6 separate regions of the Homo sapiens genome follow, and regions 2, 3, 4, 5 and 6 are each linked to region 1. The links come from fine-mapping of genetic effects on gene expression. A gene starts in region 1. Each other region holds a variant in brackets. All regions are shown on one strand. Distances are from middle to middle.

Region 1 (4,090 bases):
TGGCGCCCAGGTGGAGGCAGCTGCGGACGAGAGGAGGCCAAGGAGGCAGTTCCCTTTAGAGGGCGCTCATTGGGCGACGTGGGGAAACAAGCTCCAGCCCCCGAAGCGCGACCAAAAGGAGAAATCAAGTTCCCACCGCCAGGGCGGGGGAGGGAAGCTGGGTGCCGGCAGGCGCTCCGCCGGAGACGAGACTCCTCCCGGCCCCAGAAGCGCCCCGCCAGGGCCAGAGAGGGCGAGCGTGGCGGGAGGGAAGCCTCTGTCCCCCAGCGGCCAGGCGACCCGAAGCCGAGCGCCGTGTCACACGTACCCCGCCTCGCCCTGCTTGCGGCACTCCCGTGTAACTCCTATGAAAATGTCCTCCCGTCCCTGACGCCCCGCGGTGCAACCTCCACCCCTCAACGAGGAGGGGGTCGCCGCAGGACTGGGAATCCAGTGGCCGGCGTCCCAGCATTTTCGGACGCGTTCCGTGCCTCCCCCAGTATCCCCTTGAGGGATCGCCTACTGCGATTCCACGTAGTGTCGGTTACCTCGCCCTAGCCGCAGGGAGCATCAAACAAAAGAACTTTTGCAAACTTTTCTCTCTGGACACTCGCGGGTCTCTTAAATCTGGCCCCCATCTCCCCAGAACTTGCATGCAGTCAAACAGGAAAGCTGGCGCGGGGGGGATGGTGTGCGGAGGAAGGGACCCCGAAGTTTCCAGGTCATCCCTGGTCTCGAGGAGCGCGCGGAGTGGAGCCGTTCCCTCGCGGGCCCGACCCAGGCTCCCCCCTCCTGCCACCCTTTCCCCTCCGTCCTTCCCAGACCACGCAGCAAGACCCGCCGAGGGCGAAGAAGTTGGGAGTGACTTCAGGGGCCTCTGCGGCTAGACCAAACCGCAATTCTCGGTGCCCCCATTCCCGCGGACCGCGGGGTAACGCCAGCGAGCAGCGCTTTTCTGAGGAAGGGAAGAGGGGGAAAGGGTGACCGGACGAGCGCATTTGTCCCAGCGGATCTCCGGTGTATACTTGGGGACTGGGGGTTCCCCAGGTGGCGCTCCCCTATTCCCTGCGGGCTCCTCTCGTAGCTTCAAACACCCTAAACGGCGCGCGCATCCTCCGCCTGGCCCACTCACCGACTCCGCCGACACGCAGGCCACCAAGCCCAAGGTGAGCAGGATCCACGCGCGCCGCATATTCCCCAGGGACCGGCTGCTCCCAGCCGCTGCTTGCAACCAGGGCAAAACGAAGCCTCCTGCCCAGCGCTCGGCGCAGCCCGCGCACACGAATCCGGAGCAGAGTACCGCAGCGATTGCGGCTCAGGCTCGGGGACTCGGGCTCGGGGCTCGGGGGCGCTCGCTTCCTCCTCCTGCGCCTGCTCCCGCCGCCCGCAGCTGCGCCCCGGGAACGCGGCGCCCTCTCACTTGTTGGTTTCTGCACTCCCGACACGGAGTTGGTGCTCCGGGAAGGCTGCTCTCTGAAGCTCTTCTTGCTCTGCTGTGGTTTTGCTCCTCCGCGGACTCCTTTCCCGTGCCGAGGTTCAGTTTCTGGTTTTAAGGAATAAATTCGCTGGCTTGAAAGGGAGCTACGGCAGAAGTTTAGGGGCAGAGCGGCGGGAGCGCGCGATCCGCGCGGCTGGAGCTCCGGGGGTATCTGGAGAGCAGCGCGTCCAAGCGGGGCCACTGGCTCCGCGGCTGCGCCCCTCCTCCTCCCGCGCCGCGCCTCCCTCCCCGGGTCCTCCTCCTTCTCCTCCTCTTCTTTTCCTCTGGCTCCCTCCCTCCTGAGCCTGCTTCTCCGGGCTCCCCTGGGCGACTGGGGAGAGGAGGCGGCAGTGTGACTCCCAGATAAACCCGGGAGAAATTCCTACAGGATTACACGCCGATTGGCAGCTCCGAGGACCAGTGGGCGCCGCGGCTCCGCGCTGTGGCTGCGCCGGCTCTGCTCACCGGCAAGCCAGGGCTCCTGCGTTTTCTCAGTCCTTTTCTTCCTTTCTCTCCCCACTTTTCCTCTCTCCTCTATGCTCTTTTCTTCCCCGTTGTCTTTTCTCTTTCCCTTCTTCACTTTCCCTTTTCTAGAGAACAATTAGTGAAGAAACGAGAGACGTATGTAGCTTTTCTGCCTTGAGAATTCGACCAGTAGAAAGAAACTGCTTTGTGAGTTGAGGGAAAAAAAAAGTGTAAGATGCTTTCAAGCAATGTGAAGTGTTCATAAATCGCCAGTTCATGAAAATTGCATTTTAAAAGAGAAGATAATTAATGTAATAAATATATAGTGAGAGTGTTTCCCATTCTCCCAAATCCTTCCGCACCCCCAAAAAAGGGACATGGAGGAAGGATCCTGTAAACCCAAAGTGCAACAGTTTGAAAGCTCCTAACTTCATTAAGGGCTTAAATACCATTTCTCCCTCACACACAGTTTATGCCACTAAGGCTTTTTATAGGCTCCATTTTAGCAGATAGGTGTTAACGTTTGGAAGCTACAAATAGGGTAATTTGATGAGAAGTTGGATAGAGACCCTGAATAATAACAGATTTAAGATAACTTCAAAGAAAAGAGGGATAAAGTAATTCTTAGTTTGAAGAAAATAATGAACATGTATTTCCTAAATGGAAGTAGCTGACATGAAATATTTTGTTACAATGTCTGTGGCATATTATAGAACATGGCAAATGCGTATTCCCTTCCAGTTTCTTTTTCTTACTGTCACAAATTTTACACACAAATCCCTTGCAGTTCGTGCCATCATTTTTCTCTCTGACTTATAGAGTAAATGAATTATGACGCCATTCTGCTCCTGGAATGCCCACTACAGGAAACCAGAGACTTTTCTGTCTGTTCACCATTGTATTCTCATTCCTGGTACATAAAGACACATGATAAATATTATCTTGAATAAATTTTGCTCTAAAGCTCAATTTATACCGTATAAGAGTTGTGAGCCTTTAAAATACACCAATGTAGATATATAGATATGAGGCCATGGTAATTTTTCAACTCAGTATTAGAATAAAATACAGTCATACCCTCAGTGAGAATTAAATGTCTTAGTAACCTATTACTGTAATAAATCTCAAAGAAAGAAATTTAACTGGAGAATTACAACTCAAACTTGGAGACACTTATTCCTTTGGTTTTGTGTGCCAGCTACCAAACCTACAAATGCTCATGAGCAAGTCTAAGGCATTGGCCAACAAAAAGGTAATATGGAGAAATAGAAGAGTAGGCAAAGGAGAAAGAAGAAAAAGAGCAATAGGCCAGAAGTTGTAACATCAGATGATGCTTCTGATTCCACAGACACTGTAGCTGGCATCTGTGCCAATGTGGGCTCCACTTAGCTTTTGAAAGAATGAACCACAGCCTTTTTTTTTTTTTTTTTTTTTTTTGAGACAGGGTCTCATTCTTGCCCAGGCTGGAGTGCAGTGGCCTGCACTGTAGCCTCTACCTCTCAGGCTCAAGCAGTCCTCCCACCTCAGCTTACCAAGTAGCTGGGACTACAGGCACAGGCCACCACACCAGCTAATTTTTGTGTTTTTTATAGAGACAGGGTTTTCCATTGTTGCCCAGGCTGGTCTCAAACTCTTGGGCTCAAGTGATCTGCCTGCCTCAGCCTCCCAAAGTCCTGGGATTAGACACGTGAGCCACCAGCCTAGTGCCCTTATTTTTAAGATGGAGTCTGTGGGTTGAAGAGGTTCATGAGATGGGGAGACTTCTTAAAAAGGCCTCCAAAGGAAAAGCAGCAATGCAAAATACATGCAAAGAGCCATAAAATACCAGCTCTGTCCTCATAAGAGGCCTCGTCTACTCGCCAGCCTTCAGGCAAGGCCACACCTCCATTGTCCCCAACAGTTAAGTATTCATCAAATAAATTGGAATTCCAGTAAAACAGGAAGTGCACTCCACTGATTTGCTGGTTCTCACAGTTATTGCTGTTTACTGGGGCACCCATGTAACAAGAAGCGTGGTGAATGCTCTCTGATTCAGCTTGGGCAGACAGTGATAAAAAATGAATAAGTGGATACACGTGTTGAAGGGATATTATCTGTTTGCTGCCCTGAAGGCACACCCCAAGGCTCTTGGTGTTGATGAGATGCTCAGTGACTTGTTTCTTTAAAGAT
Region 2 (4,090 bases), 340 kb before region 1:
AGTGAGAGTGACAGCAAGCAAGAAAGAGAGAGAAAACATGAGAAAGAAGTCATGGAAGCCAAAGAGAAGAAACACTGAAAATGCAGTTGATGGAGGCAAGTGCTTCATAAAAGTGAAGTAAGATGATGGCCTGAAAAATGTCCATTAAATTTGACACGTAGGCAGTTATTTGCGACCTTAACAAGTCCTGTTTCAGTATTGGCAAAAGCCAGGCTATAATAGTCTGAAGAGCAAATGAAAGGTGAGGAATTAGAGGTAGGAATATAGAATACTCATCAAAGAAATTTGGTTCTAAAAACAATAAGCTAGAAGTAGACAAACATAGTTTATCTCATTTTATTTTCGTTTTTATTTCTTAGGATGCAAAACTTAAACATGTTAATATGTCTAATTGTCTGAACTTTTATTTCCCTATCAATAAAATAGGGCTAATAATGACCCTTCTGCATGAGCCACTGAATTGTTGTCAGAGCAAATAAAGTAACATGGGAAAGATTCTAAAGTGCTATGTAAAGTCCAATGTTATTATGTATTTATAAATGTTGAAAGAATAGAATTATACAAGTTAAGAGTCCAGTGAAATATGGATTGGCTATAAAATCAGTGAAACATTATAATCAGTCTTAGAGGCTAGCAACAGATTCTGAAGTCCCTTGCTGGACAATTCTACTGGTACTCCTAAGTTGTAGCTTGGGTTTCCAGATGTCTTCATTATGCCAGAAAAAAAAAAAAAAATGCCAGTGAATCCTGACAAATTACTGTGCATTAAATCATTTGGGAATTTATTAGTCTTATGAGTAGTAGTTCTTAAATAAAGGTTTCTGGCAATCACCCAGTTTCACAAAGCAACAGACCAGCTCCATAATTTAAGTCTCATGACCGTGAAATCATGGTGAATGGCCACAGCTTGCTGAATATGTTATTCCAAGGGGTGATGGAGGTATTATGGGAAGTAAGCTAGCCATTTTAGGACTTCCCTCCTGGGAAGCTTAATCATCCAAAAGAATATGGTGCAATCATTATTTCACTAGTCTTGAAACCTCTAAAGACCCCGCAAAGAACATTATTTTTAGCACTATGACATCAATGTAACTAGTCGTATAACTTTCTAACATGTAGTTTTAACATGCCCCATCCTCCTCCCCTGGGAAGATATCTTATCCCTGTATAAGGAAAATGTCTCTTTCCTTTTCCCTGCACTTTTGTACAACTTTCCTCTGACTGGATTTCCTAGCTGCTGACATATGTTCCCCAGTTATTTTTATTTTCAGGGGTGTAGGGTGCTAATTAAGGTCAAGCAGCTGTGTCTCCAGTTCCAAATAGCAATTGTGCAGAATAAATAAACTTCCCTTTCCAATAGATATTAAAAATCCAATCCGGAGACCCAAATAAACCCTATCTGCTATTATTTTTGCATTTTAAAAAAATCTTAGGCCAGGCTATCACACTAAAGTTATGCTTCTTTTCCCCATGTTTCTCAAATATTTTATCCTTAACGTATGACACTGCCATAATAGCTATTAAACTAGGCTGAACATCTACATCTCAGTTTTTAGACTTTTTATCCACTGTAATACTGAATTTCATCCTAGGACTGAGGGCCAATAAAGTTATTTGGCATTACCTCAATCAAAACTACAAAGAAAAAGACAAGTCCTATGTTACTCTCAAACAATATTACCAAATATTTATATGGACCTTTGTAGATAATCATTTACAGATAATTAAGTATCTTTTTCAAGTTGACCTCATTTAATCTCAAAATTA[T/G]TTTGTACATTTATTATTATTCTTTACCCCTGGTTAACAGAAGAAAATTATGAGGCCTAGAGAAGTTTAAGAAACATTCCTAAGACCACCTAGTTGTTTGGGAGCAGAGCCAAGTCTGTATCCAAGTTCCTCTAATTCCCTAACTCTTCACTATACCATAGATGGCCCCCATCATGTCACCCACTCTCTTTTTACTCCACTTCTCTAGCAACATGGAAAACAGGCTGGCTCCCTCTGAAGTCATTAGGAATCTTTGATGAAATGCAGACATGAACGCAGTTCTTCCTCCAATGAAAATACATAATATATTAGTTATATAAGGAATGTAATGGGATCACTGTGGATGTGAAAAGCCTTAAAGCTTTTTAAAGGAATGCACAAGTGATGCTTGGAATCCAGAAAAGCCAAAGAAGATATTACAAACAAATGACCAAATGTGGAATGGGTGTGTGTGTTTGGGGGGGAAACTCCATGAACAATAAGTATTTTCATTTGAATGGTTTGTTTTTACTTCATAAGGACTTTTCCTTCACGGAAAACCCTTGTTTTTGAAAGGAATTCAAATGAACATTGTGACAAACCTGTAGATGGAGAAGGAGGCCACGGATCGAATGAGAGATGCCAAAGCCCCCACCTTGGCAGCTTCCACCGCCCCCTGCGTTCGGTATTGCACCGTCCTTGAGTAGTTGATGTAAGGTTGGTTATAAACAACAATCTTCCCTCTTGCTTCTGAGGCCCTTCTCTGCAGTTCATCGAAAGAGGTCACCACCAGAACTTCTGCTGTAATGCCTAGAAATAAAAGTCATGCAAGATTAACTTACAGTTTCCCATCAGCTGGGTTGAATTGGCACAGGAAAGGTCACATACATGCTCTTTCTGCTACATCTGGCAAACTGGTATAAGAAGATCAAAGTTTTAGAGCCATTTACCATGGGAAAAGGACTGTGGGGTTAGCCAACTTCCCAAGAGAGTGAAAAGGCATTCAAAATAATATAACATAAAAATCATAAGGTTTTTCAACTCACTTGACCAGCTGGTATTAAATCACAAACTGCTTGAAAAGATAGCTTCTTTTTTAATTCTTTCCCACCCTCAGAAGTCACAAATTTCAAAGAATGATGCTAATCATTTATTTTTAAAAATGAATTTCAGAAAGCTCTCCTTAGGATTAATGAAACACATATTAATCTTTTTATATAACTATTTTGATATGTTGCTAAACAACCTACAACAACATCATACAAAGGATGCCAGTGTGTGAAGAATACTCTTAGAAGCCAATGTTGTTCATAAATGAAACTTTCAACAAATGGTTAATGTAATCTCTCTGAAGAACCACAAAAAGTAAGCTTTCCTTCCTCCTTTGCATAGAAACATTCTTAAAGAGTGGAAACTTCCCATGCTTCCCATTTACGGTACTTGTTCATCACCAAACACATCATTATTTTTCAAATAAAAACTTTGAAGATGTTGTGTAATGGCGCTATAATCCTGTTGTCTTTGTTAGAAGAGATGTCCCTTCTTTTCTCATACCATAAGACTTGCCCACATTTTCCTGATTAGGGAACAGGGTTTCACATCTTCCAAGAAATCATTCAAAATTTGCCTGACCATTAAAGATCCAAATTGATGGAGTAGTTAGAGTAAAAGGGAAAAAATATTTGGCAACAAAGGCCAGATGCAGTGGCTAAATATATCTAAAAGAAAGAAAGTGGTAAGTGCCTAGTGTTTTGTGGCTTTAGCCATGCAGTCATGAAGTATGTCAGTAAAAAACAAAGTATCAACATATATTTCCATATTTCCTTAATATTAAAAACTAGAGAAATAAGTTTTTCTGAAAGCTTAACAAATGTTAACTGTTACTTGGAAAATCCTTTTAAAATGCACTACAGGTATGCAAGAATTTTTGCTTTCAATATAGGCCTCATCATAATGGGCCCTTTGGGCTGGCTACCCCTGGTACCATGATCCAGACTGAATTTCTATTTTCACTTTAAAGTGATTGGCTAAGATCTATAGGTATGCCTTCACCAACACTGAGAACTCAATTTATAGTCTAAAAGAAGCAATGTATAATTATGGAAACTAAGGAAACCACCAGCTTTTTTCATATAATATGCATACATAAAAATACAAATAAGAGTTTGGCTAGACAGATTTTGAGATTCATACATTTCTGAAACCTGGAGTTACCTTGAAATTTGACTGGCGTTATTGTTGGCATAGTATGGGAACTTGGCTGATGGTTTGCAGCTGCTCCTAATGAATAACAGGTTCGATAGTCCACTCAAGGGATGTCGCAACAATAGGGCAATTTTGGCAT
Region 3 (4,090 bases), 320 kb before region 1:
TAGCACCTGTGCCTTACTCATTTCTATATCAACACCACCTGCACACCAACTGGCATATAGAATGAATGAAAAAATTATGGCTCAAAACCATTTATTGAAAATGATATATATGTTGAGGGCAAGATTTAGAGAAATGCAAACATCCAGATACAGATTGTATATTTCATATATTAGCTCTTAGCACTAATAAATTTTTCCAAGGCAAATAGATTGCTTTCTTCAATGTAGCCTGAACATCTTAATTTGGAATGAAGCTCTTGTGGAGCCTCCATCCATCCAGAGTCCCTTCACAGTTTTGTGGCCAAAGCCTTTGGCTTTCCAGCTTCTGGTCTTTCTAGTGAAAAATATGTTCTTTCCAAAATAATTAGAAGAAGAAAGGCAGTTACTTGCCTTCACGGCATTCGTAATCTCCAATCTAAGTGATAAAGAGTTCCTGTGATTTTGTATTCCATTGACAGGAGGAAACAATAGAGCTTCAGGAAACCAATCAATTGGCTTTCTGTTCATTAAAAAAAAATTAAAATCTAATTTATTGAAATTGTATTTATTGTTTATATCATCCTTGATTTAGGTAAGTGGACAGAATAATGCCCCCCAAAATACGTTATTTGTTCAAAAAGTATTTAATACTTTGGTAAGACCTAAAGAAACTATATATATATATGTGCATATATATGTATGTGTGTATATATATGTGTGTATATATATGTATATATATGACAGTCCTTAGTCTAAAGTGGCATAAATTAATTGGACAAGATAATTTATCATATGTACCATAATGAGGCCTATTATAGTGCTGGAAGATAAGTGTCCGTCACTGAAAGAACTTGTCCTGCCCAGGTGTCAAAATTAAAAGCCTATAGGCTCTGCCCTACCCAGGGCCCTATTAGTAAGACAGATAATCTCTGGAATAGTATAATACTTGTTTTCTGGTATCTGATATACCAGGCGTTATGAGTCCTAGGCAGCAGAGTGAGCTGCCATTTTCCCACCCATTCCCACCTCCAGCCCTCTCTTTCAGAGGCCAGTTTGACTGCAAGACTCAGGCCCTGGTTTTCATCATAATTTCCTCAAGAAAGCAAGTCCAGCTCTGGCCACCAAACTGATAGTTGGGTATCCTGAGTTCCCCATTTAATTCCTACCTGTCTTTTGGGATTGGCTTCTCCTTCTAAAATCTAATATATCAGCTCACAGAATATGTTCTGATCTATAAGTAAAGTAACAGCAGGGTGTCAAGAATTGTCACATTATCCCTGAACCATCACAGTCACTAGGCAAGCACTGTCTTCTCTTCTTGGAAAGGTACCTTAGAAAGACTGTCAGTGTAGACAGTACCAGAGTTCTTTGCCTCACCCTCCAACCCCAAATTTAGTGATCTGGGTACTAATCTCTGTTAAAGTTCCCCAGGCCTCACCCCTCCCAGCCTTGGCTTATTCTCTACTTCCCACCAGAAGTGCCTAGAATATCTCTTGATTACATAGAAGAATGGTTGAGCTAGAGTTGAGGCTTGAGTTAGGAAGTGGTAAAAGTTATGCTAAGATTGGAACCAGGTTCTAGAAGGCCTCCACCTGCCATGCTGAAGCTTTTGGGCCTTTTCCTGTTGTCACTGCGGGAAAGGGGGAACACTGAAAGTTTCTGAGTAGGAGATAAACAAAATGAAATCACTTTATTT[T/C]ATAACCACATCCTTCTGACCTAACTCCACAGGACCAATATCGTAGGAAGAAGTCTCACTGTATTTGAGTGAGGACCCATATCACTGTCAGGCTTGATGACAAACATTTTGGCTTTTTTTTTTTAAACAGGAATGTTGTTTCACTCTTATAAAGAGAAGAAACAACATGTGGTCAGAAAACCAGACACCAGCTCAGCTTGAGGGAAAAACCTTCGGAGAGACTCAGCATTTTCTGCACCCAGCCTCTTATTTGCTTGTCTCTTAGCTGATCTAGTGGCAACCCCTGGTTTCCTCCCACGTGAAGCCTGCCGCTCCAGGATTTTAAGAAAGATCGTGAAGGCCCTATCCCTGTTGCCAAAGATGTTCTTATCTAAAGATCTCTTCTAACCACTCTATCATTCCCTTACCTCACCTACTTTTGTCCAGTTTTATATTTGGAACTAAGTAACAAAACAATCTGCCTAAGAACAGAGATCCTACTTCCCAGTCATACTAATATTTTGATCCCTCAAGGAATATTTTACAGCAATTACTTTCAAAAAGAAAAGTTCTTTATTATGCATGGGGCAAGAGACATACAATAACAGCATTTTTTTCCATGAACAGCCCCTATAAATTAATACTTGCTGCTTAGAGAATACATGCTTCATTTTTGAAGGTGCTTTTAATCCTTTTAAAAATTAATGTAAACTTAAATGTATTTAAACATGAATGGCTGGGAAACATTTTTGGTATGGCATATAACCCAGTGCAGGTGCCAAAGAATCTTGAAAGCAGACAAAGCTCTGAGAAGTTATGATGCTGGTTTTATTTGAGGGGAGGTGGGCAGAACAATAACTTGTGCAAAAAAGCTATCCTGGAATAAAGTAGTTTTCTTAAATGCAAATTTGCTAGATTAGAATATTAAAAAGAACCTATCTGGTAAAAATGTAATAATTCTCTATGGGTACTCCAAAGAGAATTGCCTCATGAGAATGTACAATTTTGTGTGAAAATAATCCACAAAGAAAGGAAATTTTGGATTAATATCCCAATGTCAGAATCACTAATGTGGATTTCTAAATAAAGCCCATAAACAAACATTTGGTTTATATTTCAGTTCCTCTTTCTTTCCACTTCCTCCAATTTTTACGGTCACTCATGGGAAACTCCGATTTATGTACCATAAATAAGCATAAGTATTGGATTTATTCCCCAAATATTTTCATATCCTTATCAAAAACACATTTGGATAAATATCTATACATGTTGCAAGAAGTTATTGGCCCTTGGCATATTATTTGAAAGGTGAGATCAACAAGTCAGCAAATTATTTTAAATTGCTTACCAAGACTTGAATATAGGTATAAATTACCTGGAAATAAAAATTCATTTATTAAAAATGATTATAACATAGAGTTTTTTTGTTTTCTAGTTCTACCTCATAAATGCAAACATCTGCATAATATACTATACCAGCAAAATATTTCAGTATCTCTCACACTTTCTTCTGCATATTCATTTATTTTAGTCCTGTTTTGTTTATGAAAACAGTCACATTATCTATAATATCACTTTGATGAATTGTTAATGTACATCAAAATTTATACACCCAGTTAGGTTTTCTTCCATTTTGTTCCAAATAATACAATAAAGGTTAGTAGAAACTAAAAATAATGATGAACGGAGGCAGTAAGAGTGGGTCAAGGGCCTGGTGCTTGCTCTATCACCTACAAATAAGGTATAGACTCCATTCTTCTATAATCAAGATAAAATAATTATTTTTTTAAAAGAATACGTTTATGAAATGCTAGAAAGAATATCACATAGATAACGTGCTGTAGTTCAGATTTTAAGACTTGTGGAAAACGGATCTTAGATGCAGTGAAATTCTTGATTCTTATGAAGTTCCAAATGAAGACATTAGTAGATTTCCAAAGATCCAGGACATTAATATTTTATTAGCTTAAACTTGAAAGATTTCTGTGGTAACCCAAAATTACTTTATCAGATTCTAAAAATAAGATTTAATTACAACACTATTTTGATATTTAGCCTTCTCTGGAAAACTGGATAACATTTCTCTAGATGTCTATGTTAACCTCTACTTGGCTTGCCATTTTAACATTTCTAGATGCAATGAACTCTAGTAAGTGCTATAGAGGACCCAAAGCTAAATAAAACAAGATCCATGTTTTCAAAAATTATATACACTGGTTAGCAATTGCTTCAATGAGAAATAACAGAGTGAAAGGACTGACAAGACTATAGCTGTCTCTTATGAGCAGAGGAAGTTCTAACTAGATGCTATAAGGAGTCAGGTGAACATATCAATGCAATGCAGACACTACCCTTAAAGTTGAAGGTGAATATATTTTATCCGTTTGGTTTGGTTTACATTGCTATATCCAAGAGCTGAGAAACAACACTCTTCCA
Region 4 (4,090 bases), 140 kb after region 1:
TGGAATCATCTCTTTATTAAATAATAATTAAGAGGCCCCTGTAAAGGGAATCTGGGTCTAATTACCTGAGTCATTAAGCTACCCCATTGAAACTGGGAGGCTCTTTTGCTCCTGTGGCCCCACTCTAAAGCAATTTTCACATTTCTGGAAGCAGCAAGTGGAGTCTCACTTTTGTGGGGGGCTCAGACTCAAGGTCCTGTGTTTAAGTATACACGTCATTCAAGAAGGCTCCCACCAAGCATCCAACTCAAAGAGTGAGTCCTCCCCTTTCCCATACTGCAAGATCTAAATTGGTCTTGGAACGGAGAACACAAGGAAGGGCCAAGGGACCAGCTGGGCAAGGAATCAGCTCATTAGTAGCCTCTATGGAGGTGTTGAAATTGAGCAAGTTAAAAGCATATTAGTTTAAATGAGACTTTTCACAAATGAGGGGAAGTGTTTAGGTAGGAAGCAGATGTAATCATTTTGTGATGGGGCATAATTTGATAATTAATGGAGAAGTTGTCAGTATAATCTTGAGGGAGCCCCAGGAAATGAAGAAATCTGTCTTTATTAAGGGAAACTCAGGAGAAAAAGTTATTGGAAATGCAAGTGATTCACCAGCAAGGTCCTGGTGGCAAGTCGTTATTAGATGTGCATGTTGGGACCGTCTTTCTGCCACATCTGTGTGTTTTGTCTTGATTCACCAGGCCCACTACCTCTCCTAATGGGAATGCAGAGAATAGAGAACATTGAAGGCGGTTGTGAAGCAAACCCAGGCTTCTTTCTTCCGTGCAGACGGGCTGGCCAGCGTCTGCTATGCTTAGCAGGAAAGCAGGGAGAGACAAGCCTAACTGGCTCCCTGGGGGCCAGCCAGATTTTGACTCCCTAAAGCCTGTGCAGCCAGGGTTCAGTTTCCCAGGGAGATGCTAGGAGTGTGCTTCCATGGAATATGTGAGCCCATGGAAGAGCAAGCCCAGGGAAGCACAATCCTAGTATCCCACTGGGAAAAGAGGCTGGGTGGACTCCCACTTGGCCAGAACAGGAGTCCAGGAGAAAAACCCCACAAGGGTGCCTATGCACAGTGATTAAGGCACGGGCTCTGGAGCCAGAATGCCTAGGCTCAGCTCTCCACTTGGCCACAATTTCTCTTGACATTAAGTGTGCTATTCAAGGTCTCTGTGCTTCAATTTCCTGGTGCCTATCTCATAGGGCCAAGGATGGGAAGAGTAATTCTATGTAAAGGACCCACAGCAGTGCCTGGTGCTGAAGGTCTGCTCAACAAGTGTAGTTAGCATTTGCCGTTAACTACTAGCCATGTATGGCATTTGAGCACTGGAAATGCAGCCAGTCTTGGTTGATATGTGCTGTAGGTGTAAAATGGACATAGAATTCAGACTTTGTGCAAGAAAGAGAATATAAAATATCTCATTGATAATTTTTATATTGATTACATATTGAAATGATAGTATTTTGAATATATTGAGTTAAATAAATACATGTTATGAAAATTAGTATTGCCCGCTCTTCTTTTCTTATTATAGTAAAAAACACTAACATAAAATTTACCCTCTTAACCACTTTTAAGTGTACAGTTCAGTAGTGTTAAATATGTTCACATTGTGGTGAAACAGATCTCCAGAACTTCTTCATCCTGCAACTCTGAAACTCTATACCCATTAAAAAACTCCCCATATGCCTCTCTCTTCAGCTCTGGCAACCAACATTCCACTTCTTGTTTCTAGGAATTTAGATATTTTAGATACCTCATATAAGTGGAATCATACAGTATTTGTCTTTTTGTGACTGACTTCTTTCACTTACCATAATGTCCGCAAGCTTCAGCCATGTCATATCATGTGATAGGATTTACTTTCTTTTTAAGGCTGAGTAATATTCCATCCTTTTTTTTTTAGGGTGACTATTAGAAAATGTAAAATGTATTTGTGGTTCCTATTATATTTCTACTGGATAGTGCTAGTTTAGAACTAGCGGTTCTCAACCTCATCAGTTCCAACCCCTCCTTACCACAATGAATTTGTAACACTCTCTTCACTCTCCTGAAATAAACTGTATAGATAAAATAACTCATATGCACACATAATTTTTAAAAAAGAACAATATAATAACCTAACTGTAAGTATATAGAATAAATGAAAGGAATCTATAGAGAAAAAATATATTTTAATTTACTGTTAGACATGACCACTTAATACAAAATAATCAGATGCTTCAATGAATATGTAAAATCACCACTAATGGGATAGGTATCAATGCAGAGTAGTAACTCAAATTTTAGGAGTGATGTTGCCAGCAGAAACATGATGTCCTGAAATGAAACAGCTCAGTAAAATTCCAACAAAACAAAGTACAATTTTCTCTCTATTTATATGGTTACATTCTTACAAAAATGCATGTAAATTTAAATGAAGTAAAATATATAGGTATATATGGAAACTGTAATTAGGTTCTGGGCTAAGAGACTTCAAAATAGATTTTTCACCTAAATGAAAGCCCAATGAGATATTTACAAATCAAGAGGACCC[C/A]AGAGAAATTTTTCACTTTGCAGAGCTGCCCTGTGCATTGCAGAACATCTTGTTTCCCTGTGTCACTGTATATCTATCGAAGGCCTATACCATCCTTCAACCACTGGGACAATCAAAAGCATCCCCTCTATTTTCCAGTGCTCTCCCATGGAGGCAGCAGAGCCTCCACTGAGAAGCAGCGATACTGAATTGTGAGAAACACAGTGTGGTGATCCCAAAGGTTCACTGTTCAGGAGCTGCTCGGCTTTTCTGCCCGGTGGTCTCATCCATCCGCGGTTCCCACCATGGCTTTCAGTAACTCAACGTGAGGGGAGTCCTCTGGTCCAGCAGTAACCACTCTCCAGCACAGACCAGAAGGCTAGATGCTGAAGTTTCTCCAGAACTTCAAATACAACAGACTCAGCCCTTTTCCCTGTAAACCCATGCCTTTCCTTGACATCTTAGTTTCACTGTCACCAGTGTTTTCTCCAACCCCACCCCGACCCTTACATAAGGCAGAATCACCAAAGCCTCTTCTCTCTTTGCTCATGGCCTCCCATTTCCCCTGCTTCCAGCTTCCCTGCCTCTCCCTTGGATCTGCAGGTTTCTCAGTGGCCCCTCATTGCTCTTCCTCACTCTAGTCTGCCACCGCCACTCCATCCTGTTCATCACAGCCCATGAAAACTGGGAAGCATGAGGTCAGCATTCAGTTCTTTGCAGTCAGGCCCAATGTTCCTTTACAGTCCTCCAGAAGTCTCCACCAAGAGCTCTTCCCTTTCATCTGAGTGAGAGGCAGCATAGCCTAGTGGACAAACTCAGGCTAGGATCAGCAAGAGCTATCCTGTATTGACCTAGCCCTGCACAGTCATGAGCTGCTGAATGATGGGATATGTTCTGAGAAATGTGTCTTTAGGCGATTTTGCCATTGTGCGAAACATCATAGAGTGAATGTATACAAACTTGGGTGGTATAGCCTACTACACACCCAGGCCATGTGGAATAGCCTATGGCTCCTACGCTAAAAGCCTGTACAGCATGTTATCATACTGAATGCTATAGACAACTACAACACAATGGTAAGTGTTTGTGTATCTAAGCACACCTACACATAGAAAAGGTGCAGTAAAAATATGGGATAAAAATGTTTTAATGGTACATCTGTATAGGGCAGCTCCATTATAATCTTATGGGACCACCATTGTATATGCGGTCTGTCACGGACTGAAATATGGGTTTCTTTTTTTCTTTTCCTTTTTTTAGAGACAGGGTCTCGCCCTGTCACCCAGGCTGGAGTGGAGTGGTATGATCACAGCTCACTGTAGCCTTGAACTCCTGGGCTCAAGCCATCTTCCCACCGCAGCCTCCCCAGGTAGCTGGGACTATTAGGCATGAGCCACCATGCCCGGCTAATTTTTTTTTCTGTAGCGATGAGGTCTTGCTATATTACCCAGGCTGGTCTCAGACTCCTTGGGCTTCAAGTGATCCTCCTGCCTCCACCTCCCAAAGCTCTGTGGTTACAGGCGTGAGCCAGTGCGCCCGCCCTGAAACATGAGTTCCTATCCAAACTTCACTCCTTATTAGCTGCC
Region 5 (4,090 bases), 31 kb before region 1:
ATAGTTCTCTGGGTGCAACCTGCGTTGGCCTTCCTGCAATCTGGAAAAGATCTTCTGTCTCCCTGCCTCCTTGAAAATAGGCAGACATTTGATCCACTTTTTTAAACTTCAAGGAGGGAGAGAAGAAGTTTCTGTAACTATAAAATATTTGGTCCCTCCACTTACTGGAAATATGCCACATAACAAGAAACATGAAACAAACAATCGTATAACAACTGGGTGGTTTTTGCAACCGCTTTAAGGAGATCAGCTTGGTCCTTTTTCCTATGTAAAAGTATTTGTGATGCTTCATTACAACAAAACTTCAAGTATTAGCTTTATAGAGGCCTATTTAAATTCAGAATCACAAAAAATCAGTACATATTCATAGAATTCTAACTTCCTTATGCCCATAACAAACATAGGTGCAAAGCCACTTTGGGGAGGCCCACAGGACCGAAATATCAGGAAAAGAACCACAAGGCTAAAACATACCTGGCCCTGCACCATGCCTGGCCCGCACATCCAAAAGCCATGACTAACTCTACCATTTGACGGTTAAACTTGAAGCCGTATGCTTAGCTTTGATAAGCCTCCATTCAAGGTCTCTGGGACTGACTTTGTTCATTTTTGAAACAGGTCAATGATGCCTACCCCACAAGGTTCCTGTGCGGCCCCACCCTGACAATGTGTGGAAAGTACTCTGTAAATAATGTCGTCCCAGACCCTTTTCCGGAGGCTTTCATTATCTTAGTTTTCTTCCTGAAACCGCCCCTTTCAACTACATGAATTTATGGTCTTATTCTGATTTTATATGTGGAGAAACTGAGACCCAAGCAGTATTTTTTCCAGGAAAAGAAAACTCCAACAAATTAAGAGATGCCCTCGGAGATCAATAAAGACTTGGGAATGCAGTTTGCCAGTAAGGTAACATCTTGGACAAGTCCTTTAACCTTTCCGAGCACCAGTCTGAGTTCAACTCACCAGCCTGGAGGGTAGACAAGCTGAAGAAGGTTTTGTCACCAGAGAGCTCTAAAGGAGATGGCAAACACTGGAGGAATTGGACCTCATATAAAGCAGCAAGGGCAAGAACCTTCTCCATGCCCCCAAGCAACGCACAAAGTAAGCCCAGGCAGGATGGGGTGCAGCCTCACTCTAATGGGAAGGGGGCTCTGATAAGGAACTTGTCCAGTGACCTCAGCATGGCACTCCAGTGCCACTGGAAAACAAGGCCTGCAGGTGGAAGTGAGCACAGGTGGGAGGCAGCTGTTAAAAGAGGAGCAGAAAGGAGACTACAGCAGCACCAAATGGGGTGGCTTCCCAAGGCCAAGCACAGAAGCTTCTCTAGGACAGCCAGGATCAAGACAGTGCCAGTTCCTGCCCTAAGTGATGTCACACATCAACCGGAAGCCTCATCACAGAGTGGGAACGGACAGCCTTGAACATTTCAAGAACACTTGGGCACAGGCCGAAATCACACCTGAGGTTTGCATGCAGAAGAGAGGGAGAGCAGGGCTTCCAATCATTCCTCTGGAATGAGCTGAAAGTACAGACTACGATTTTACATTATTGTGACCCAATTATTCCAGTATCTTCATAGCTCATATGGAGATCCATGTAACCCGACAAATAATGGCCAAAGTCTTGTCTCACTCAAACTGGTTCCACAAAAAACTGCAACTGATAAACCCTCAAACCCCACATCTTCCCAAGATTGAGCAGTAAACCACACAAAAATATAAATAGGAACCACCCACTAAAGTGCACAAATGATACTATATTAGGTCTCATTGAACAGCCCAATGAAGCCTGCAGTATTTATTAGGTGGAACCACAGCAGTGCTCTGACTTGTATTGGAAAGGAGAAAAAAGGAGGAGGAATGATTTCTAAATATGACTTCAGCATGTTGATAATAAGCTTTCCGGCACTGGTTCATTACGCCAGCCACC[C/ACCC]TGCAATCATTAACCCCAGGTAGCAGTGGGGGAGCTAGGACAAAGAAACCCACTGCTTGCCCAAGGAGATTTCCTCATGCTGCCTTCAACAACAACTTTTAGGAAGTCATAACTCCCCCTTCTGAAACCAGAGGAGTTGATACCCTAAACTGGAATATATAACTGAAATTAGTTCTGACCGGTCTTAATTAAATCTTTGTAGCCAGTTGTCAGTGTGCTTGAGATTTTTCAAAATCTCTCTCTCACATGCTCAACAGATGTGGGTGGTAATCAAAGCCAAGCTGATCGGAGCTGCACAGACAGCGAGCAGCAGCTCCCCCAAACGAAAGGTCAGCCATGATAATGACATCCCCAGAGTGATGTATGTGCACGTTAAGAAGTTAAATCTCATGAAAAGAATGTCCAATAAAGCCATCAATTTTATTTTAGGTTCATCTGGCTGCAATTTCTGCCTACAGTCATCTCACTCCAGGAAAAGTCAGCACCGTGCAGGCACCTGGATTCACTTCGGGGTCTCTGGTATATGAACTATGACATTCCACACATAGTTTCCCAACGCAAGTACTGAAATATCTGTGCCCTACTTCTTAGCTCACTGTCTGTAAAACATTCCTTGCCCTTTGATGTGAAAGAAAAATACTCCACTTTACAACATTATCCTGGACTGGACTTCTTTTTTGAAAGAAGCCTAAAACAACACCACCATTGTGGCCACCCTGAGTGTCTGTGGCAACAACCAGAGAAGAAATAATCTTAAAGTTACCAACACGTTGAGCAACTTTACACCTACCTAAATCCTACTCCCCTGTATGATATTTTAAGGGAAAAGAAATCATTAGCAGAATTTCCCACAATTATCTTTGAAAAAAAATCCGCGTCTTTTTTTGGATGGATTCTTGTACCAAATACTTAAGCATTCCTCTGTCTTTAAAGCACCAGGGTAATCTGTTATTAAATGCACGTTTAAACCAACGTTTTATAACCTTGCTGCTGTTTTCAATGAGTCTCCGCCTCTTCCTACCAGGCATTTTGGGCTATAATAGCAGTCCCACAGCCACCTCCTACTGAATAATTATAATAGTGGGCCAATTAAACTAATCACCTTTCCACATATTTTTATCCGGCTTACAGATGTAAATCTCCCCCAGAATGCCGAGAATGAAAGGTTCCTCCCCAATAGCACCTAGGACTCCAAGAGTTACCCCTGGCAGAGATCCCATCCATTAGGGGCAACCTTAATGCTCAACCAAAACTAGTAAGTAACACATTCAAATATGCGATATTCATATATATTCACCACACACTCATCTTTCCTCTTCCAAGAAATCTAAAGGATTCATGAACTACTTCCACAGTACAAAAGTTTAACTTCGTGGTTTAGCTTAAGCAGCAAAACACCACCAAATCCTCTAAAAAGCAATTACCAAGAATGACAGTGCTGAACAGTGCGGGATTTTAGATGCTCAGCAATCCACTGTATGCATTTTTTGAAGGAAAAAAGATTTTAAAGAAAGATTTCAAATTCAGAGGTTTATCACTGTTGCATGAACCATTTACTATGGAGCAACTAACTGAATTAATAACTCCTCGGAGAAATTTTTCTTGATGACTCACACAGAATCTTCTGGCTCTGAAAGGGAGGATACGTTTCCATCCAAACGCCAAGTAACAAGCAGTGAAAAGGAAAAATTCCAACCCTAGGCAAAAGCAGCAGGTGGGAAATACACTCATTTGTATAAAGCTAATCCAGAAATAGCCATTTCCCCTTTCTAGATAAAGCCACAACCTGAGGAATGTTACTTCTTCTGGTCAGGGTGACAATTTGGAAGCAGTTCATGGACCAGATTTATTTTACACCTTACATCCTGAAACTGCTCTATCTTGTTCTCTAAAAATCCAATTATATAACTTAATGACTATTTCAAATATGGATCATAGATCCTTAAGCTATTTCCCTTACCTTAGTAGTTCAGTGATTTTCCCCAATAGTTTTATAATACATCCCATAAACTAGAATAACTGTCTACAGAGAAAATCACTTTTAGTTGACTCCTCTGATATCAGCACAGTACAGAGACAGCTTTGAGAAAGTGTTTCTCGATAGGGTGAAGAGACACTGCAAGCAATTGGGGACAAAATGGAGGAAAGGATTAACCACCAT
Region 6 (4,090 bases), 150 kb after region 1:
AGGAGTCATACAGTATGAGTTCAAATATATGCCTGTATGAGTCATTATGAGTAATGACTCACAGTCATCACTCTACGCAGACCTCTCTTATTAGTCTATTAACATTTATTAAGTGCCCACTTTGGACAAGCTCCTGAACGAGGCTGTAATGTGAACACTAATAGAGGAGAGAGAAAAACCCATACATGGGGAATGGCCAAGGAATAACTTTAAGTAAGTACATATAAGTATCACTGTACTATACATGAATGGGGAGGGTGAATATATGAGTTAACTACATACAGAAGAGAACAATAAATAGTCTGGCTGTATCTTTGAATCACAGGATTTTAGAGTTGAAAGGGATCTGGGGGGTCATCTAATCCCACCTCTCACCCCAAACAGAGATCTCTTCTACAAGTATCTGTGGAAGTTCCAGTGTCAACTTAAAGGCAGTGAGCCAGTTCTTTTGATTTCCAGGTTTTTGGTTATTATAAAGTTCCTGCCTTTCATCACCAAATCTGTCTCCCTTTGGGGAATTCTCCTATTGGTCCCAATTTTCCCCACAAATCTATAGCAAATAGTCACCCTTCTCATTGCCGTGACTGCCATTCTTCACATGGATAAAGGGAAGACAAGCATGTGTTGACCACTTACTCTGCTCCAAACACATTCCAATAGTGCCACTCAATAGGGATGATGGTTTCTCATCTAAGGACTCTGAAGAGTCATTAGAGACATTAAGAGTCATTAGAGATATTAAGAAACTTGTCTAAGTTACACAGTTGGAAGTACTGGAGCAGAGATTTGAACACAAACTCACCTCTTTTCTACTACACTACACTGCCTCTCAAAGCCAGTTGTCATCACCATGCTCCTCATCTTCTCTTATAGACCATCTAAATATCCCTGGTTTCTACAGACTTTCCTTCTCAGCATACAAGTTCTCTAGACCTCTCCTGATGTTGGTTATTCTCTGAACAGGCTCCAGTTTGTCAATGTCCCTCTTGAAATGCACCATAAGACCAGAATTCAATACCCAGTGTGGCCAGACCATCCTGCCTAGCTTGCTTGCCCTGCACGCCATTTGCATGCCCAGGATGGCTTCGCTGACTTAAGAAGCATAGTAGACCTGTCACACATTTGGCTTGGGCTGATCTTGATGTAGCTGCAACCTGGGTCTTTTTCATATGAGCTGGTTTCAAGTCACATTTCATCCATCCCTTACTTACACCATTGCTTCTAATAAGTCTCAATGGGATCCTGTTGGATTCATTTATTGGTTTTGAGAGAGTATTTCAATTTGTTAAACAGCATATTCGCTGCTTCTCTGGCTTTAGGCTATCTGAACATTTTAAAAGTAAGTCTTCAATGTTGTGATACAAGTCACTGATAAGAATGTTGAACATGCCAGGACCAAGAGCAGAGCCTTGAGACATCCACTGGACACCTCCAACAGGGTGGCAATTCATCGATTAATTAATGCTCTTTCAGTACAGTTGTCTACCCAGCTGTGATTCCAGTGAGTTATTTTTAACTCCACATTTCATTTCTCTACCTCCTCACAGTTTATGTAATAAAAAGCTTTGCAAAACACCTGCTGGAATTCATCCAAAACATCCTCTTTTTTTTCCGAGTGTGTTCTGTAGAATGCTTGATCAGTGGGATGGTATTAAATAGGTTTTTTGGTGCAGGACTTCTCAGAACCTTTAATGTGCTAATGTGTCCTGTGAATCTTCAAGAGAAACTACAGTAGCACACTGTGTTTCTCAAAGTTGAGGTAGGTCCTTTATTTTATTTTATTTTTGCTTAGGTGGGATTTGTACTCTGCTCTTTGCTCATTTGTAGTATTCCCTTGATCTACCAATCTGATAACTACGTGTAAAAGCAATACAACATTAGCTCTGCATGGCTTGTTCTTAGTGAACCTCTGCTAATGCCCAGTGATCAATGCTTGCTTCTATAAAGATGGTCACAGACCACCCTTTAATAATCTGCTCTAGAATTTTACTGTGGATTAAGACCACGCTTGTTGACCTGCAGTTTTCAAAATCTATTTTTTCTCTTCTCTCTCCTGATACAATACATTCTTGTTTCTCGGGGTTTAACCCAC[C/T]ACAACTATGAACTTCAGCACCATGATATTTACTGCAACAGAAGCATGATATTTACTGCACCTGACACAGTCAGCTGCCACTGTGGGCTTCAGTTCTCTTCTATCCATGTGTGCACCGCCTTTTCTAGTTTGAATGGGATTCTCTTGATGGAGAACATATAAACGAAATCTAAACAACTCAGGTTCATGGTCAAGGCAGATTCCTGACTCGTGCTCCCTCAGATTTTCACTTTACTCACAAAAGGAGGTAGATGCCATGGGGGTAACGAGCTAGCCTGCATGTCTTGCTACAGAACTGTTCTGATTGAGAATGAAAGGGTGAAGATGAGCTTCCTAGTGGCGGGGTAGGGGGAAGGGTGTGACGAAAAAGACCCTGATGAATATTCGAGCAATGGAAACAGTCCAGAATGGCCGGGGACAGAGATGAGGGGAGAAAGGGACCAGGGACATGAGGGAGGGCCAGAGCATGGCTTATGAGCCCTGATAAAGAGAAAAGAGAAATCACAGAAGGAACTGCAGCAGTGAGAGAGAAACAGTCAGATTGAACTCTATTCCCAAGGAGTGAACACCCATTCTTTTGTCTCCTACTCTTGTTCTATATGTGGAGTTTGTAAGCTGTGCCCATTTCCTTTTAAATAATAGTCGTTTGCTTTTTCTAAACACCTCAAATCACCCCAGGGTTGGCCACTCCTGATACTCTCCTTTTGCGGGTTTTTTTTGCCACTCTTGATAAGCATCCTTGGCTGGGTGCATTCTGTTTTTGTGTATACATGCCCTTTAAAGTTCTGAACTGTTAGTCAGTGACAGAAGGCTTCAGAGAGTGGAGCAGGCTTCTGAAGATGAGAAATGTGGTGTCAGGGAAGAGAAAAAGAAGTTTGGTAGAAAGGGCACATTCCCTAAGTGTATGAAGCCCCAAGGCTGCACAAGCAATGTGTGGTTCATATTTAGTGGCTCTTGGGTGGACATGGTGTATAAGGGCAAGAAGCTAGGAGGAGGAATCTGAAGGTGGCCTGAACCCTGGCTCTGCTATCACCAGCTCTGTGGCCCTGGCCAAGTCATTGCACTACTCTGGGCCTCAGTGTCTTAACCTTTGCAATGTAAGGGATTCAACCAAGGCTTGACCCTGAGCCCCCTCCTTCAAACTTCTTCGTTGCTCCTTGTCTCCCCTGTCTGCATGTGCACGTGTTTGCATGTGACAGCTATCTCATACAGGGTGTTCTGCCATCCAGGCCACAGCCTCCTTCTTGAACTGTTTGCAAGTCAGAAGCTGGACTGCAGATACAGCATCTGGGAGCAACTCTCCTTGGATCGGAAAGAAGGTGAAAATGTGCTATTCTGTTTTATTTCCCCAGTCATCTTTTAATGGAGCCCAGACTCTGGCTTCCATCAGCAGAAGAGATCAGGAGGCAGATTATGGGATTGTAATCTTACAGAACGACGAGTCCACCTCTCCCTGTGGCCAAGTGAGTGATTCACGTTTGGCTCAGTTAACACTAGGGAGAAGTCAGATTAACACAGTTACTTGCTTGGAAATGGAGGTTGTTGCACATGGGGCTGGCTTTCTTGAGAGAACACATTTTCAAAAAACACTAATGTGTTTTGTTCAGGGATAAAATGTTCTCAGTGGTCCATCATTGCCTGTCTGGAAAGCTTGCAGTAAGCGGATGCAGGAGGGATGATCATTTAATAGCTCCCCAACCTAAACTCACCATGACAGGATAGAGTTAGGAGGATGAAAGATAATTAGTTCAGTTTGGGGAGAACCGCCAATGGAAGTGCCTTTTCTTTAGACTCTTTTTTGATCAGAGCAGTAACTAAGCCTCAGAAGACACAGAAGGAAGAACATCTTCCCTAGATGCAGAGCAGATGCAGCCCCTGGCAGCCTAGACCCTGGGGCTCAGCAAAGCTCCGGAAAACCCCCGACAAACATTGCAGTCCCATCTGAAAACCAGAGGGGCGGTGGATTCCATCAGGAAGGAAGCAGCTCTGGTATGGAAC

Evidence for each region. PIP is the estimated chance that this variant, and not a neighbour inherited with it, causes the effect. A credible set is the group of variants that fine-mapping cannot tell apart.
Region 2: its variant is the best candidate, but not a certain one, in a credible set for the expression of SDC2 in whole blood (TOPMed, PIP 0.53).
Region 3: its variant is the best candidate, but not a certain one, in a credible set for the expression of SDC2 in whole blood (TOPMed, PIP 0.52).
Region 4: its variant is the best candidate, but not a certain one, in a credible set for the expression of SDC2 in monocytes (TOPMed, PIP 0.66).
Region 5: its variant is the best candidate, but not a certain one, in a credible set for the expression of SDC2 in whole blood (TOPMed, PIP 0.77).
Region 6: its variant is the best candidate, but not a certain one, in a credible set for the expression of SDC2 in whole blood (INTERVAL, PIP 0.76).

The regions. Positions count from the first base shown.
Region 1 is chr8:96,491,353-96,495,442 of GRCh38, reverse strand. SDC2 (syndecan 2) reads right to left here and starts at 1,630. Exons shown (of 5, transcript NM_002998.4): 1 at 1,112-1,630. The coding sequence starts at 1,171.
Region 2 is chr8:96,833,439-96,837,528 of GRCh38, reverse strand. CPQ (carboxypeptidase Q) reads right to left here. Exons shown (of 8, transcript NM_016134.4): 3 at 2,349-2,556. Among named protein-coding and RNA genes, the nearest start is that of CPQ, 190 kb to the right of the region's middle. The variant T/G (reference allele first, on the strand shown) is at 1,768.
Region 3 is chr8:96,810,608-96,814,697 of GRCh38, reverse strand. The region is part of intron 2 of CPQ (carboxypeptidase Q); the gene reads right to left. Among named protein-coding and RNA genes, the nearest start is that of CPQ, 170 kb to the right of the region's middle. The variant T/C (reference allele first, on the strand shown) is at 1,676.
Region 4 is chr8:96,355,622-96,359,711 of GRCh38, reverse strand. No RefSeq gene overlaps it. Among named protein-coding and RNA genes, the nearest start is that of PTDSS1, 96 kb to the right of the region's middle. The variant C/A (reference allele first, on the strand shown) is at 2,526.
Region 5 is chr8:96,522,495-96,526,584 of GRCh38, reverse strand. All of the region lies in intron 1 of SDC2 (syndecan 2), which reads right to left. Among named protein-coding and RNA genes, the nearest start is that of SDC2, 31 kb to the right of the region's middle. The variant C/ACCC (reference allele first, on the strand shown) is at 1,930.
Region 6 is chr8:96,345,284-96,349,373 of GRCh38, reverse strand. No RefSeq gene overlaps it. Among named protein-coding and RNA genes, the nearest start is that of PTDSS1, 85 kb to the right of the region's middle. The variant C/T (reference allele first, on the strand shown) is at 2,093.